2 linked regions of the Homo sapiens genome follow. The protein of the gene in region 1 interacts with the protein of each later gene in a pairwise test. Each region holds a gene or a part of one and is shown in the gene's direction. Other genes may lie near its edges. The genes, in order: FAM118A and ZNF451.

Region 1 (3,819 bases):
TACTGGTTTGTTATGAAAGATATCGCAAAGGACACAGATGAGAAGATGCGTAGGGTGAGGCGTGGGGGATGCTGTGCAGAGCTTCTGTGCCCTCCCCGGGGTGTACCATTCTCCAGAAACTTCGGCATGTTTGTATTTATCTCTCAGGAAGCTCTCAGAACCCAGCCCTTTTATGCCTTTTATGGAGACGACTTAAGCATGTAGGCATGCTTAATTAAACCATTGGCCTTTGGTGATCAACGTAATCTTTAGCCCTCTCTTCCCCAGGTTAGTGGGTGGGGCTGAAAGTTCCAAGGATCTAATCCTGCCTTGGTCTTTCTGGTGATAAGCCCCCTTCTGAAGCTGCCCAGGGCCTATCTGCGTCAATCAGCTCATTAGCATACAAAATGACAGCACTTTGGAGATTCCAGGGATTCTAGGAGTAGTAAGACGGGAAACAGGATGAAGACCAAGTAGAGATTTCAACAAAATGCAAAGCTGTTGGAGGGGAGACAAGTTCAGATGTGTCAGAAATTTCCCTCTGGTGACTATGTGGGACTAGAGGACTAGAGGGGCTGGAACTGGAAGCAGGTGCCTTTCAGTGTCAGACATGTCGTGAGGGTTTTTTTTTTTTTTTTTTTTGAGATGGAGTTTTGCTCTTGTTGCCAGGGCTGGAGTGCAATGGTGCGATCTCGGCTCACTGCAACCTCTGCCTCCCAGATTCAAGCGATTCTCCTGCCTCAGCCTCCCAAGTAGCTGGGATTACAGGCGCCTGCCACCTTGCCCAGCTACTTTTTGTATTTTTAGTAGAGACGGGGTTTCACTATGTTGGCCAGGCTGGTCTTAAACTCCCAACCTCAGGTGATCCATTCGCCTCGGCCTCCCAAAGTGCTGGGATTACAGGTGTGAGCCACCACTCCCAGCCAAGTTGTGAGGGCTTTAAGACTGTGGCAGACGGTATGGATTAAACAGATTTAGGAAGAAAAATCTACAGGACTTGTTTGTTGAAGTCTGGGCTTAGGTGAGGGAGAGACAGACTCAGGGATAACTGCACAATGGAACTTCCTGTGGTAACCAAAATGTAATGACTGTTGTCCAGTACACACTGGCCGCTTGTGGCCGCCGAACACTGAAAATATGACTAATGTGACGCAGCTGTTTAATTTTATTTAGCTTTAATTTTAATTAAATCTAGGAAGGATTCCCTATCACACATCTAGGGTGTAGTAGGAAGCACACTGTTCCAGGCTTTGTTCTTTTATTCCATTTAATGCTTCCAGCAACCTTAGGAGGTATAAGATATTCTTTCCTTTGTAGAAAAAGTAAATAGGCTCAGGAATGAGTCCTTGCCCAGGTAGTAAGGAGTTCAGCCAGTACTGATTTGTTGGCCAGGCTGTTGCTGCTGTATCCTACCTCCTTCCCCCAAGGAGCCTGCAGCATCTCCTTGTCAGGAAAATGCCGTCCTCTTGAGTTGGTAGCATTGTTCCTCCATGTGGCCCTCCTTATCTGTTCCCACCCCGCCCCCCAAGCTAACATGGACAGTTGAATGATAAGCACACTGTGCAGGGGCTGGTCTTTTTCCTGGAGCTGCTCTGCCTGCCGCCTCTTCTATCTGCCTAATGGCAACTCTTTCAACATTTCCGGGGAAGGAGAAACTGTAGAAAACTAAACTGTGCCTTATTTGTAATGATTTGGTGGTAAAGAGGTAGAAATGAGTGCCTTAAAGTGTTGGGGTCACAGTGGACCAGACAATGCCCAGGCCGGTGGGAAGGGTATGGGACATGAGCCAGGAGTTACTTTATAGCTTGTTCCCAGCCCCGTGGGGGAAGTTGACAAAGTCACTGTCTCTTAGTCTCAATTTTCACTTCTGAAAAATTAGGGCATTTGGTTTCATGTAACCTTTAAGATCCTGCCCGCTCTGAAATTCTGTCATTTTACATTTTGTTGGAGGTTTACCTTCTAGAACATGTCTTACGTATCCTCTTGAGGTGGGGTAAAGGCAGGTGGGTCCACAAGCCCCTGGCCTCTGTCTTGGCGTGTTTTAACATTGGCTTGTTAAGTAACACGTTTATTTGAGTTAATGTGTCACATCTGGTGGACAAACTGTATGTAAAATGCTGAATGCTTTAGTGGATGGCAGAGTTCCCAGTAAAATATCAGGTATATTTGTTTGCCATTTCAAGCTGCACTGATGTTAGGAAGAAAGGCGCAAGAATATATAATACACAACTTGGGGCTGGCCTGTTAGAAGGGTTCACTATCGGCCTTGGCCAGGCTGTGGGTCATAGGAGTCGCCACCTCATCGGGTTATTGAGGTTAACTGAGATAGTGCGTGTAAAACGCTTAGCATTTTCCCTTGAATCTCTATTAAAGGCTGAAAAAGTGGCAGTAATTAATGTTGCTCTTTGAATTAATTTGTGACCAAATTAAACTAAATTTGAATTAGATTCTTTTTCTAGTGGTGGGTTTTGCTGTTTTCCTGGTTTGGGTGTATACGTCCAAGCAGCTCTGTTTGGTGGGACTGGTTTCAGGAATCCAATTAACTTATTTCCATCATTACAAAATAAGGCATTTTTCCCATTATAATTAAGTTCAACAGAATAAAAAGTAATTGGTTAAGTGGAGTGCGTTCAAATTAAGGGTTCATATTTTCTGTAAATTGAAGAAAATAACTCATCCTGAAGATCCCTTATTATTAGTAATGGCTGAGATTAAGTTTTACCAGAACCATGATTACACTGAAATGTAGTTGTGGTGACTGCCTTGGAAGAGTGGTGCTAGCGTGAGGCGGTTGAGAGTAACAGACACTGTACACTTTATTAAGTGCCTTTCAGATACGCGTCTCCCTTGAATGTCTGCAGCAGCCCCGTCGGTGATGTGCATGTTGGGATCCCCATTTGGGAGATGGAGAAACAGGTTTAGAGAGGTCTACCTGGCTGGGGGAAACAGGTTTAGAGAGGTCTACCTGGCTGGGGGAAATAGGTTTAGAGAGGTCTACCTGGCTGGGGGAAACAGGTTTAGAGAGGTCTACCTGGCTGGGGGAAACAGGTTTAGAGAGGTCTACCTGGCTGGGGAAAGGGTGGTGTTTCCTTGTCTCCAGATCCTGTGTTTTCTGCACCTTAGTCCTAATGCTGCTTCAGGTGGGGGTGTTGTGGTTTCAAGGCTAAGCCTCTCCTTTGCAGTTCCAGAAGCTTAATTTTTTGCCCATTTGTGCCTTGTTTCCAGTTCAGGTGACCCTAGTCATGCTAATCAAACTCACCAGAAACCTATCAGCTGGATCGCAGATGGTTCATTTGTGGTTAGAAATATGACTGTCACATGTGCTTGAAGACTGTTGCTCAGTGATTTGATTTGATTTTTGAGATGGAGTCTTGCTCTGTCACTCAGTGTGGAGTGCAGTGGCACGATCTCGGCTCACTGCAACCTCTGCCTCCCGGGTTCAAGCGATTCTCCTGTCTTAGCCTCCAGAGTAGCTGGGATTACAGGTGCGCACCACCATACCTGGCTTATTTTTGTATTTTTATTAGAGACACGGTTTCACCATGTTGGCCAGGCTGGTCTCGACCTCCTTACTTTAGGTGATCCGGCCGCCTCGGCCTCCCAAAGTGCTGGGATTACAGGTGTGAGCCTCCACATCCAGCCTTGCTCAGTGATTTCTGCCGCCACACTCTTCTCCTCTCCCAAGCCTACGTGGGAACCTGATGGCTGTGAAAAAGGAAGTTTGTGGGAATCACATCTAGAATGAAGGGAGAGGAGGATATTAATGAGCAGGGTCTGGCCGTTGAGCTTCCATAGCATGCAGTCATCTGTCTTGCTGAGGGTCATGCTGGGAAGGGCTTG
Region 2 (3,819 bases), on another chromosome or scaffold:
TTTTTTCCCCACTTGAATTGTAATGAGACTTATAGATCATTCTTCAGTACTTCAGGTTCTACCTATGACTATTATGAAGGCAGGACCCCATAGCATATTTTTATTGCTTTATCCTCAACTTCTAGCAAACCTTCAGCTATCCATAGTAGACCCTCAACTATTTGTGGGATAAATGATCAAGAGCTGATACTGTTTTTTGGGTTTGTTTTTGAGACAGTCTCGCTCTGTCACCCAGGCTGGAGTGCAGTGGCGCAGTCTCGGCTCACTGCAACCTCAGCCCCCTGGGCTGAAATGGTTCTTGTGCCTCAGCCTCCCAAGTAGCTGGGACTACAGGAGCATACCACCATGCCCAGCTAATACTTGTATTTTTAGTAGAGACGGGGTTTCTCCATGTTAGCCAGGCTGGTCTCAAACTCCTGGCCTCAAGTGATCTGCCCGCCTAGGCCTCCCAAAGTGCTGGGATTACAGGTGTGAGCCACTGCGCCCTGCTGATGATACTGTATTTGATATATATTAAGACACTTTCATATTTTAATATCTCTAAAATTAAGAGGTACCTTAACAATCACTGTTGGCCTAGACAGAATTTGCATTTGCTTCTGTCTCTGCTGGGTACCTAGAGAAACTGCCAAACTGAGACCCACTTTAAATTTTCTGCTTGGGGACTTACATGTCACACTGATAATGTGAATTTACTCTGCAAACTTGTTGACTGCAGCTTATGGTTTAAACAACAAAAGATTTCTTTTTCAGTCTATCTAATGCCAAGATTGAATCATGCAAATTGCCTTGCTTACCTTTTCTCTATGGCAGATTTATTTCTTATTTACCCTTATATTGAGCGTATAGCCCTTTGGCATTTCAACCTTATGTGAGGTCTGTTGGACTTCCATTTTGGCTTTTTCTTTTCATGGCACATTAAATAGCTTATATAATTTAATGGCATCTTATATTTGATTAAATGTGGGGTATTTCATTTATGAACGAGTTCTTTCTTTCTCTCTTTTTTTTTTTTTCCTTTTTGAGACGGAGTGTCACTCTGTCGCCCAGGCTGGAGTGCAGTGGCGCGATCTTGGCTGCAACTTCTGCCTCCCGAGTTCAAGTGATTCTCCAGCCTCAGCCTGGAGAATCCCGAGTAGTTGGGATTACAAGCGCATGCCACCACACCCAGCTAATTTTTGCATTTTTTAATAGAGACCGCGTTTCACCATGTTGGCCGGGCTGGTCTCGAACTCCTGACCTCAAGCGATCCACCTGCTTTAGCCTCCCAAAGTGTTGGGATTACAGGCGTGAGCCACTGCACCCAGCTGAAGGAGATCTTTATGTCATACTTTGGTAGGGACTAGGGAACAAGCTTAATATACCTTCCTAGGCATGTGTTCATTCTGAAATAGATGTAACTTGTTTTGAAACTCATGCTGATTTTTTATCAACCTGTGCCATTTGTTCTAACTTAGGCTGGCCGTCTAGATGAACAACTACCCAAGCAAATTCCTTTCACCATCCTCTCAGGAGATCAAGGTTTTCTGGAGCTAGAGAATCAATTTAAGAAGACTCAGAGGCCAGCTCATATACTAAACCCTCACCACTTAGAGGGAGATATGATGTGTGCCTTGTTAAATAGCATATCTGATACCACCAAAGGTACGCAGCTGCAGTCACAGTGCAAACCACCCAAGAGGAGGAGACTTCACTGCTGAGAGAAACCAATAAACTGCTGTCCGCTAGTGAACTGTTGCCTGCTTGCTAAACCATCATGTTCTCTTACTTCTATCTTACTTATCTTTTTTAAAAAAATCTCACTTTCATTCTTTAGTGTTTTAGAAGGAGGATGAATTCATAATAATTTTCTGGAGCTTTTTTTGATCTAGTAGATAAAATCTATATTGATGTATATAAAACATATATTCATGTGTTACAGTATGTTACTACAATTTTAAAAGCTCAGAATTCAGATCTTCACTTTGTTTCTGAAATTCCAAGTTGACCTTCAGTTTTTTAGAAAGCAGTGCGCTTAGAGGTGAAAACCAGAAAGCAATAACAAAGGTGATCATTTAAGAGGTTGACAGTGACAAAATAAAACGCTGATAGGCTTTTAGGTCCTTAGAGAAGTGGGTACATCCTATCTTATTGCTGGGACTTGCACTTTCTTCTGTACCTTTGTGAGATTGTTCAATGAAAGGAGTGCTGATACCCAATTTCACTTCCTAGTATATAAGAAAAGATGTAATTCTAAGGATTCAGAAGTTTTGTTTTTCGTTTTTCATAATTTCTGCAGTCAAATGCTCTACCACTGAGTTATAACCCCCTTTTTCATAATCTCTGAAGTAAAGAAATATGGATAGAATAATTAATGTTTAAATATCCTAATAATTTAAATTCATGAATAAGGTTTGAAGATATTAATGAATTACCTTAATGAAAAATAGTGGCTTTTTGGCATTTTTATTGTGTGCCTTTAAAGCTTTCAAGTCTGCTTGCCTCCTAGATTTTTTTTTTCTTTCAATATATTTGGAAGCACATTTTGATTGAAAACTCATTCTGGAGAATTTTGCTGTAATCACTGATTACAGTGGATCAATTCACTTCTGCAAAGTTAGGAATCAGTAATCTGTGCTCTTTATACTCTTTAAAGTGGAGTAATGATGGAAGATTATAAAAGAAAATGAACTCTTGTGTCTTTATGTCATGCCTTAGTTCTGAGTATTATCTTCCTATTCTGTAATTTTTGTTTTCACTTGTTTTTCTATCTGTGGCTTTCTTTTTTCTTAAAACAAAAAACAAAAAAACAAAAAAAACAGGCTGGGTGCAGTGGCTCACACCTGTAATCCCAGCACTTTGGGAGGCTGAGGTGGGTGGATCACCTGAGGTCAGAAGTTCAAGACCAGCCTGGTCAACATGGTGAAAACCCATCTCTACTAAATATACAAAAATTAGCTGGGCATGGTGGCGGTTGCCTGTAATCCCAGCTACTCGGGAGGCTGAGGCAGGAGAATCGCTTGAACCCAGGAGGCGGAGGTTGCAGTGAGCTGAGATTGCACCATTGCGCTCCAGCCTGGGCAATAAGACCAAAAACTTCGTCTCAAACAAAAAGCAAAACACCTCTTCTACTCTTTTGCCATCGCTTTCCCAGTTCTCAACATCTACTTAATATCCTATAAGATAAAGTTTTACCTTTGCCGCACAAGGCCAACCTCCCTTTCCTTCTCTTATGCTTCTGCTTTTGGGAACATTTCTTTTATAACTCCAAATGTGAAACCTGTTATGGTTTTGCAGAGGCAAAACCATATTCTGTTTGGAATGAGAGGTGAATACGAGTAGACTTGCATGGGTATATTACAGTTGGAGGTAAGATACAGGTTATTAATATCTGCTGATTATGCCCTTCCAAATGACTCTTATGTTCTAGGTATTCTTTTTTTTTTTTTTTTTTTTTAATCACTCATACTCAGTACTCATTTGAACTAACTACTCTCTGGAGGCACATGTGTACTTTATTCTTAGTTTTTGTGACATACAGAGATTGTGCACTGCATGAAGAAGGATATGGGCTTTGGTTCAAATGCTAACTTTGCTGTTTCCTAGCAGCGCGATTTCAGGCATGTTACTTAACTTTTTTGGAGCCTCATTTTTTTGTATTTATATGGTTGTAATAGTTAGTGATGTATGTAAAGTGTCTAGCACAGTATATAAAGCACTTTAGCTATTTAACAAATAATAGCTATTTTTTATTATTACTACCATAAAAAGAAAATGTGATTCCTAGCCACTACATTTTTAATGTTACACTGAATCATAGTATGTTCAGGCTTAGTTATC

The links.
Region 2: the proteins of FAM118A (region 1) and ZNF451 interact in a two-hybrid assay, tested with the Homo sapiens proteins (one large-scale study listed by BioGRID and IntAct).

Annotation. Positions count from the first base shown.
Region 1 is NC_000022.11:45,312,719-45,316,537, forward strand, and holds part of FAM118A (protein FAM118A), read left to right. Parts: intron 1-3,819.
Region 2 is NC_000006.12:57,152,404-57,156,222, forward strand, and holds part of ZNF451 (E3 SUMO-protein ligase ZNF451), read left to right. Parts: intron 1-1,457; coding exon 1,458-1,644; intron 1,645-3,819. UniProt on the Homo sapiens protein: E3 SUMO-protein ligase; has a preference for SUMO2 and SUMO3 and facilitates UBE2I/UBC9-mediated sumoylation of target proteins. Plays a role in protein SUMO2 modification in response to stress caused by DNA damage and by proteasome inhibitors (in vitro).